Homo sapiens: one gene and its partner. The protein of the gene in region 2 purifies or fractionates together with the protein of the main gene of each other region. This does not show direct contact. Each region holds a gene or a part of one and is shown on either strand. Other genes may lie near its edges.

What was found.
Region 1: the proteins of VGLL4 (region 2) and GMPS purify together in Homo sapiens (co-immunoprecipitation; one large-scale study listed by IntAct). This does not show direct contact.

The regions. Positions count from the first base shown.
Region 1 is NC_000003.12:155,928,948-155,933,795, reverse strand, and holds part of GMPS (GMP synthase [glutamine-hydrolyzing]), read right to left. Parts: intron 2,032-4,848; coding exon 1,916-2,031; intron 1-1,915. UniProt on the Homo sapiens protein: Catalyzes the conversion of xanthine monophosphate (XMP) to GMP in the presence of glutamine and ATP through an adenyl-XMP intermediate.
Region 2 is NC_000003.12:11,563,195-11,568,042, forward strand, and holds part of VGLL4 (transcription cofactor vestigial-like protein 4), read right to left. Parts: intron 2,648-4,848; exon of another isoform or gene 1,826-2,647; coding exon 1,603-1,825; exon of another isoform or gene 1,092-1,602; coding exon of another isoform or gene 1,065-1,091; intron 1-1,064. UniProt on the Homo sapiens protein: May act as a specific coactivator for the mammalian TEFs.

The DNA.
Region 1 (4,848 bases), about 140 Mb from region 2:
GAGGGAATCAGGGTAGAGATATGAGTGCCACTTAGCTAGTTCTCCCTATTCACTTTTCGTTAGTCCTGTTTTTAGCAAAGAAAATAAATCTCCCCGGAAACTATCATGGTAAAGTTTAATGTTTTTTCTTCTTTTCTTAATATGTACTTAGGTAAAATACACAATAGAAAACCATATTAGCACAAAACCACCGGTATCACCAACTACTTTATTGTCTCCTTCCAAACATACTACAACAGAAGCAAGGTTTTTGTCCCACGTATAGACAGTAAGTTATAATTTTTCTAAACAATACAGTTCCTAAAGTTCATAAAAGATCTTTACAGGAGAAAGTTAAGAGAATGCCATGAACCTGCTCTTTTCACCTTCTCATTTCTTACAAACAAAAGTAATCACTAGAGTGTACTGGGACAGGTATTTACCCACACTATATATGACAGTAAAACTGGAACAGTCCCTCCCTGTACAAAGATTCCCTTATCCAAATTAGGAAAAAAACCGGCAAACAGGGAAGAATATTTTTAAACTCCAATTCATCAAAAAGACCCCAGCAAATAAATCTAAAGTTCACCAAGATTCTTTTTTTTTTCTTTTTCCTTTTTTTGAGATGAAGTCTCGCTCTGTCGCCCAGGCTTGAGTGCAGTGGTGCAATCTCAGCTCACTGCAAGCTCTGTCTCCCGGGTTCACACCATTCTTCTGCCTCAGCCTCCCGAGTAGCTGGGACTACAGGCACACACCACCATGCCTGGCTAATTTTTGTATTTTTTGTAGAGATGGAGTTTCACCATGTTGCCCAGGCTGGTCTCAAACTCCTGGGCTCAAGTGATCCACTCGCCTTGGCCTCTCAAAGTGGTGGGATTACAGGCGTGAGCCACCATGCCTGGCCCCCATTATTGAAGATAGTAATAATTCTATTTTTCAGCATTTTAAAGATGCTTCTGTATTTGACGGTTTTCAGTTCATTTGAGTAAGCCTTTGAATGAGCATGTTCCCATCGGTAAAAACATGGCTTCCCTGTAACTCCTTATCTCGAACTATACAGACTCTGCTAGCTTAACATTAAAAGGTAAGCTTCTGATTTCTGCAGCAATTTGAGTAAAATGAAACCTCAAGTAATTCTTTTTGGTTGTTAACTGCCTAACACCCATGAAGAAAACTGAACAGAGAGAATAACTGTGAAGTAAGAACATTTAATTAGCAATCTAGTACAAAATAAGTGAATTTTTGAACTATATATGGTACGATGAAATTGAGGATTAGAAATAGATTATAAATCAGCTGTTGATATATCCAATGTAAGAAGTTAATATGCAAATTAAAGGGAAATTAATCTAAATGTAAATTATATATTTAAATGTAACTATTTTAATGCTATCTGGCACATGCCTATTTCTTTTCTTTGATTTTTTTCCTTGGGGTTACTACTAAATTAACCAAGTCTCCATTTTTGTTTGGAGTGGGGGTTGTTTGTTTTGTAGGGGTGTGTGTGTGTGTGTGTGTGTGTGTGTGTGTGTGTGTTACTTTATTTGTAATTCTGTAACCTGGACATACTTTTTTCAATCCTTCTGGAATAAAACATGTTACCATAAAACCAACAGCTAATATAAACCACTAATTTAGAAGATGTTTTACAGCTGCCTTTAATATTTTACACTAAAATAAAAATCTTTCTCCTTTAAATAATTTTTAACAGATGACTACATTGTGATGAAGAGTCAAAACACAAGATAATATTAAATATCTACTTAACTGCAACCTATGTGCATATTTGAATTACAAACACAGCCATTTACTCTTATCTACATGACCTACCTATATCTACATTTGAGCCTTTTGGTCTTCCATTAATTGAAAGCCCTTAAGAAATACATCCTTCCATTACACAAGCCCCCACCCTAGCTCCTGTGAAACACACCTGTTAACGTTGTGACACATGCGAGGTATAAGCCTAGCCAGAAAAATAAGTGATTCCCAGTCAGGTTCATCTTTACTGGAGATTCCACACACGTAACTGTAGGAACGACAGTCACCCTGAAAATAAAAAGATAATCAATAATTTTTAATAGTCAAAAGATACACCAGTTTAACTTGACAAAGCTTTTTTTTTTTTTTAAAAAAAAAAGAAAAGATGCATTGAAAAATATCTTATGCATGGTGACATTATTAATGGATTTTTGGAAATTTTGAATGAAAGTATATACTAAATGCTTCTTTAATGGTATAAATAAATTCCAAATTAAAATCCCATATTAAATCCTACCTGAATCAGCTAAGACATACATAAAGTATCATGGTAATATCAAGAATTTAGGCTGGGCACAGTGGTTCATGCCTGTAATCCCAGCACTTTGGGAGGCCGAGGTGGGCAGATCACCTGAGGTCATGAGTTCAAGACCAGCCTGGCCAACATGATGAAACCCCATCTCTACTAAAAATACAAAAATTAGCCAGGCATGGTGGCATGAACCTGTAGTCCCAGCTACTCGGGAGGCTGAGGCAGGAGAACTGCTTGATCCTGGGAGGTGGAGGTTGCAGTGAGCTGAGAGATCGTATCACTGCACTCCAGCCTGGGTGACAGAGTGAAACTCTGTCTCAAAAAAAAAAAAAGTATTCAACATTCCCATTACCTGCACAACTGTGGATAACCAGCATATTTAATTTGGCAGACAAGGCCAGGTACAGAAGCTCACACCTATAATCCTAGCACTTTGGGAGGCCGAGGTGGGTGGGTCAGTTGAGCCCAGAAGTTTGAGACCAGCCTGGACAACATGGCAACACCCTGTCTCTACAAAATATACAAAAATTAGCTGGGCAGTGTGGTGGCATGCACCTGTAGTCCCTGCTACTCAGGAAGCTGAGATAGGAGGATCACCTGAGCCCAACGAGGTCGAGGCTATCGTGAGCAGTGATCATGCCACTGTACTCTAGCCTGGGCAACAGAGTAAGACCCCATCTCAAAAAAATAAAATAAAATTATGAAAAATTATAATTTGGCAGACAAGATCTGCCTGTGTTTTTTGAGTGGATAAAGAATTCTTAAGTGGGAGACAAAAACAATTCATAAACATTTACTTATCAACGTGTTTAAGTATCAGCTTAAAAGTTAATTTTATGGGGTTGTTTGTTTTGTTCTTGTAAATTTGTTTGAGTTCACTGTAGATTCTGGATATTAGCCCTTTGTCAGATAAGTAGGTTGCGAAAATTTTCTTCCATTTTGTAGGTTGCCTGTTCACTCTGATGGTAGTTTCTTTTGCTGTGCAGAAGCTCTTTAGTTTAATTAGATCCCATTTGTCAATTTTGGCTTTTGTTGCCATTGCTTTTGGTGTTTTGGACATGAAGTCCTTGCCCATGCCTATGTCCTGAATGGTAATGCCTAGGTTTTCTTCTAGGGTTTTTATGGTTTTAGGTCTAACGTTTAAATCTTTAATCCATCTTGAATTGATTTTTGTATAAGGTGTAAGGAAGGGATCCAGTTTCAGCTTTCTACATATGGCTAGCCAGTTTTCCCAGCACCGTTTATTAAATAGGGAATCCTTTCCCCATTGCTTGTTTTTCTCAGGTTTGTCAAAGATCAGATAGTTGTAGGTATGTGGCGTTATTTCTGAGGGCTCTGTTCTGTTCCATTGATCTATATCTCTGTTTTGGTACCAGTACCATGCTGTTTTGGTTACTGTAGCGTTGTAGTATAGTTTGAAGTCAGGTAGTGTGATGCCTCCAGCTTTGTTCTTTTGGCTTAGGATTGACTTGGCGATGCGGGCTCTTTTTTGGTTCCATATGAACTTTAGTTTTTTCCAATTCTGTGAAGAAAGTCATTGGTAGCTTGATGGGGATGGCACTGAATCTGTAAATTACCTTGGGCAGTATGGCCATTTTCACGATATTGATTCTTCCTACCCATGAGCATGGAATGTTCTTCCATTTGTTTGTATCCTCTTTTATTTCCTTGAGCAGTGGTTTGTAGTTCTCCTTGAAGAGGTCCTTCACATCCCTTGTAAGTTGGATTCCTAGGTATTTTATTCTCTTTGAAGCAATTGTGAATGGGAGTTCACTCATGATTTGGCTCTCTGTTTGTCTGTTGTTGGTGTATAAGAATGCTTGTGATTTTTGTACATTGATTTTGTATCCTGAGACTTTGCTGAAGTTGCTTATCAGCTTAAGGAGATTTTGGGCTGAGACAGTGGGGTTTTCTAGATATACAATCATGTTGTCTGCAAACAGGGACAACTTGACTTCCTCTTTTCCTAATTGAATACCCTTTATTTCCTTCTCCTGCCTAATTGCCCTGGCCAGAACTTCCAACACTATGTTGAATAGGAGTGGTGAGAGAGGGCATCCCTGTCTTGTGCCAGTTTTCAAAGGGAATGCTTCCAGTTTTTGCCCATTCAATATGATATTGGCTGTGGGTTTGTCATAGATAGCTCTTATTATTTTGAGATATGTCCCATCAATACTTCTCAAAAGAAGACATTTATGCAGCCAAAAAACACATGAAAAAATGCTCATCATCACTGGCCATCAGAGAAATGCAAATCAAAACCACTATGAGATACCATCTCACACCAGTTAGAATGGCAATCATTAAAAAGTCAGGAAACAACAGGTGCTGGAGAGGATGTGGAGAAATAGGAACACTTTTACACTGTTGGTGGGACTGTAAACTAGTTCAACCATTGTGGAAATCAGTGTGGCGATTCCTCAGGGATCTAGAGCTAGAAATACCATTTGACCCAGCCATCCCATTACTGGGTATATACCCAAACGACTATAAATCATGCTGCTATAAAGACACATGCACACATATGTTTATTGCGGCATTATTCACAATAGCAAAGACTTGGAACCAACCCA
Region 2 (4,848 bases):
AGGGCCAGAGGCTGGATGTGGGTGCTCCGAGATTACAGCTGAATCCTCCCCTCCATACCCGTGTCCTTCAGGGACTCCCCAACAGCAGTGGCAATGGCCAGAGAGCCAGGTTCTGCCTGCACGGTTCAGGCCATGGCTCATGGCAGCATTACAATGCCTGTTGAGCTTCCCAAAGCAGAAAGGTCCACTGCCCACCCCGGGGAGCAGTGAGCGGGTCCCTGTGGGTCGCACTGCGCACACGCCTCTGTTCCAGCCCCTGCTGCTGCCCAACAGCACAATCCTCTCTTCTCATGTCCATTTCCCCAATTAGACTGGGAGCTCCCTGTGGCCGTGACAGTGTCCACACACACGTCTCTGGCTGCCCACAGCTCTGCTCTGCAGAGGGCTGGGTAAATGGTGAGCGCTCGTAAAACGTTGAAATGAACAGCAGTGATAACTTGGCCTCGGGTTCCATCAGACACATCAGCGATCTCTCCTCCAGACTAAAACTGAGCGTGCTGAGAACAAAAACTGCATCTTGCTTGACTGGCTTCTGGTACCCCCTGGCACACAGCAGGGGTCTGTGCCATTTTGTTAAATGGATGAATCAAACAAACAGGATTACCATGTCAGGCTCTGAGGCAAGATGGGCAACTGTTCTCAGCTTCACCAGGATTCCCAAGCACCAGAACCACCTCTCCCAACTCCCAGGGCCTACCCCACCCACAGTTTCAACAGACCCCATCAGACACGGACACCAGGCAGTGCCACTTGGAGGGAAGCCCCGGTGAGGCCACAGGGACACAGAGGCTCTTGCAGCTGAATGCACAGAGCCCGGAGGCACCCCCTCGGGGCACGGCACCATCCTCTCTGTCAGTCTTAGCAAATGCTGACTACTGACTAAGGACCTATTAGGTCGCAGTCCCTGGAGATTCGGAGAGCTCAAGCAGTAATTTTGAGCCTCCTCAATGCTGCTGCCTTCTCCCATATATTTCCCCAGGAACCCCATTTTTAAAAAGATTTGTTTCTACCAAGCAAGCTGTGTTTATTAAGCAATCATTTAATTTCCTATTTTCCTTTCATAGAAAAAAATCCCTATGTACCAATCATAGGCTTCTGACCAGCATGGGCTCACAACCCTGTGACCATCAACTGTGCAGGACCCCAGCCCAAGGCAAAGCAACCTGACATTTCCCTTCATCCGCGTGACCGTCTAAAGGAGAAACGTAGGACCCCCCCACCCGAGGATGACTACATTCATCCTAAGAGAATCAGGCCTGCCACAGAAGACTGCTGGAGGAAACACCTCAGTACACCACCCCTGTACTGGGAGAGGAAAGAGATGAAGCCCCAGTGACATTCACCTTGCCCAAGGCCGTGAGTGCTAAGAGGCAAGGCCCGGGCAGGTCTGGGCAGGAAGTAAAAGCAGAAGAGGACTCCTGTTCTGCTGTCCCTTGTCCCAAGTGCACAACAGAGGCGAAGGGTGGCATCCCTCACCACCTCCCTCCCTCACCACCTCCCTCCCTCACCACCGCCCTCGGAGTCCTCTGCTCGGGGCTCTCCATCCAGCCCAGTCCCCCAGCCCCTGGACTCCCCACGCCACCCTCCCAGACAGAGGCCCACCTGCTGCCGCTCCCCCGGGGTCAGTGTGGGCGAGAGGCCGGCTGGCCTGCTGGCGTCCAGGCTGTTCTTGGTCAGTGCGAGGGGCTGCTCCAGGCCAAGGCTGGGGAGGGAGGTGTACAGGTGGCTGCCGTGCAGGCTCATGGTGGGGGCCACAGCGCGCTCGATGGGGCTGCGGCTCCGCTCCCGGGGGTCTCTGCGGCAGTCTCCATTGGCAGTCTTGTTCCTGAAAAAGAGGAATGGGCATTCAGGGGGCGTTTTCTCAAAGGCAAAGGGGACAGTGACTGTGCGCCAGGCACTCCGTGTTGCTTATTTAATTTTTTACCCTGAAGCTCAGGTCGTGTGGCTGGGCAGCACGATGAGGAGCCGGTTGCCAGCCCGGGTCAGCCGGACACCAAAGCCTCTGGGTGCCGGAGAAGCTGCTGCCAGCGGAGTCCAAAGTCAGCTCCATAGAAGATGGAGCCCCCGACTCAGTGGCGTCCTCTGCCTGACTCTGTGTTCACTTCTATAATAATCTCCACTCCCTGGGAGCCTGGGGAGCTGGAGGCCAAGCTGGTTCGATAAGGACCTGCCATTTGGACAGGACGGGGACGCTGACAACGATCCAGAGTCACTGGCTGCGTCCTACATGCAGGGCCCTATTCAAAGCCTCCACAGCACTGCTCAGCCCATCTTCCTCACAGTACTGCTCAGCCCGTCTTCCTAACAGCACTAAGCAGGCAATGCTGCCACCATCCCCTTTCCAGACCAGAACCCCAAGACTCAAGAGTGGTGGAATAATCAGCTCAGACTCCCAGCTGACATGTGGTGGCACGTGCTCTGGGGTTCCCGGGGTGCTGTAGGGAGCCGGCGCGCAGCTCTCTCGTCCAGGACACACGAGCAGGAGTGACCTGCGTCCAGAAGGTCCATCACTAGCCCTGGCCATGTGCTGAGCACCCAGGCGATGCCACGTGGAATCCAGGTGAGACAGTCAGCACCACCTCCATCTGATGTGTTAGTCTGAAGGCAGCGTTACGTGTTGCATCTATTAGACACCAACCCCACACAGGTAAGCCATGGCCAGCCCTGGTCCACCCTCCCTGCTTTATTCCAGGGGTCCCACAGTTCCATCTGCCTTGGGTCTTGCCCCTTCAATCCACCATATTATCCGCTGACAGAGTAACCTTTTTCCGTAACTCATGAGCTGGTCATTTAAAGAAAAAGGTGGTGAATTATGATTTGAGTGAATTTTAAGAAATACAAATTATTTTCAGAGTCTACAAGTAGTCACCTGTCTTAACTAGCAGAAAAGCCTAGGCCTGCCCTGGTGAAGCAGCAGCCACAGCCCCCGTCCCGGACTGGCTGAATATGTTACACACACAATGAATGTTACACACACAATGTTACGCATGCACACAGAATGTTACACACACACTGAATGTTACACACACGCACACCACACACACACACGCATGTGATAGGCGTACCTTTCTAAAACTGTAGATTAACTTCAGTTGTAAGAAACAACACACGGCCATCCCATGCACCCTTTACCTTGACTCCCGCGATGGTGACATCTTGTAAAACTACAGTACAATATCACAACCAGGATATCGACAATGAGACAACTACCAACCTTATTCAGATTTCGTGTTTTGCTTGTATCCATTCCAGAGCAATCTCTTTATAAGGCAAATCCAACCACATCCAGCCCTTAGTGAATGTTTTTAGCAGCTCAGCACGGGCCTTGGTAGCCTCTGGGCCTGACCACCTTCCCGTCCTCATCTCTGGCTTCACGCCTCCAAATGTTGTGTTCCGTAGTTCCAACCATCTACTTGCCATTCCTCAAATAAGATGCGGCCACTCTCTGCCTCTGTGGCTGTGTACACGCGGTGCCGCTCTAGCCTCCCTCCTCCCCGTCCTGCGCTGCCAACCACAGCTGCAGTGTAGAATCCCAAGGCGCCCCGTGCAAACCTTTAATACAGAATCCATCCCCCACCGTCAATGATCTCTTCGTCTACGCACCCGCCCCTCCTCACACACGGCAGCCTCTGAGGGCGTCGAGTCCCTCCTGTCTCATTACGCTTGCTACCAGGGGTGCACAGAGACTTAACGGGTGAATGAAGAGAAGCAGCATATGGGTGACCGTGTAAGAAAGGCAGGTATCGTGGAGTGGAACTGTGGGTGGGCAGAATCATGGAGAGCTGGAGGGCTGAGGAGTCAACTGGAGGCGCATTCAAGCCTTTAGATGGACCCTGCGGCCCAGTCGGTGAGCTGCTAAGGGCTGAGCAGGAGAAGCACCAGAGGGGGCCTGAGTGCAGCCTCGGCTGTGATGTTGTGATGTCATTCTGCGCCATCTCCAGCAGGGGCACGCGCTCAGCTTAGTGACCCGAGGCGTTCCGAGCCTCGGCGTCCCCATGTAACCATGTGGTCACAGTAAGATCCACCCAGAGGACTCTAAATGGGGGACAAACAGCACACAAACAAAAACAATCAGAGCGGCGCAGTGCAGCCCTCAGTGAGCGCCAAGAGAACCCTGTCAGCCCTAAACCGAGTATATTGATTATAGGGTGATTAGCTGTACAGGACCCAGTATTCGTTTATGGGGTTTTTTTCTTCCCCTTTATTTTCTGGCTGATGATACAGAATATCTTAAAAGCAATTAAGGATTAAATGTTCAGCCCATTAAGACAATCATGGAAGAGAATGTTCTGGCAGAGTCTAGATAGTAGGTTCCATCCACGCCACACACATCCTGGCGATTTTCAAAACGTTAAAATACTAAAAACCTTAATACTGAAACCAGCCTGTCCATAATGTCATCTGTCTGTGGCGATTCAGAAGACAGCACAGGTTTCTGCAATGAATGCCTCAAGGGTTATGATCCCAGACACCGATGTCACCAGAAGACCTTCCGCGGAACGGACGTCAGGCCAAGCAGTCCTGAGATCTGCTGGCTTCTACCTAAACGGGACTTGGTTCCTGAATACTCAGTTCATCAGTGTCACCACACATCCTCATCTTCAGTGTCCCGCTCCCTTCTAAATTCAGATAAAGATACAATTTTATTGTTAACAACATGAGTGAATGGCTTCTCTCCACCCCAGGTGATGCTTCCACGGGCCACTTCATGAAGTGCATAGACCTGGGGGCTCATGTCCCAGATTCAGGAGAGCCTCAGACACAGTCTGCCTCCGAATTTAGACGTCTGTTTACTCAACCAGCGCTAGTTAAGTCCCTGTTCTGTGGAGGTTCCAGAACTGCAGGGTT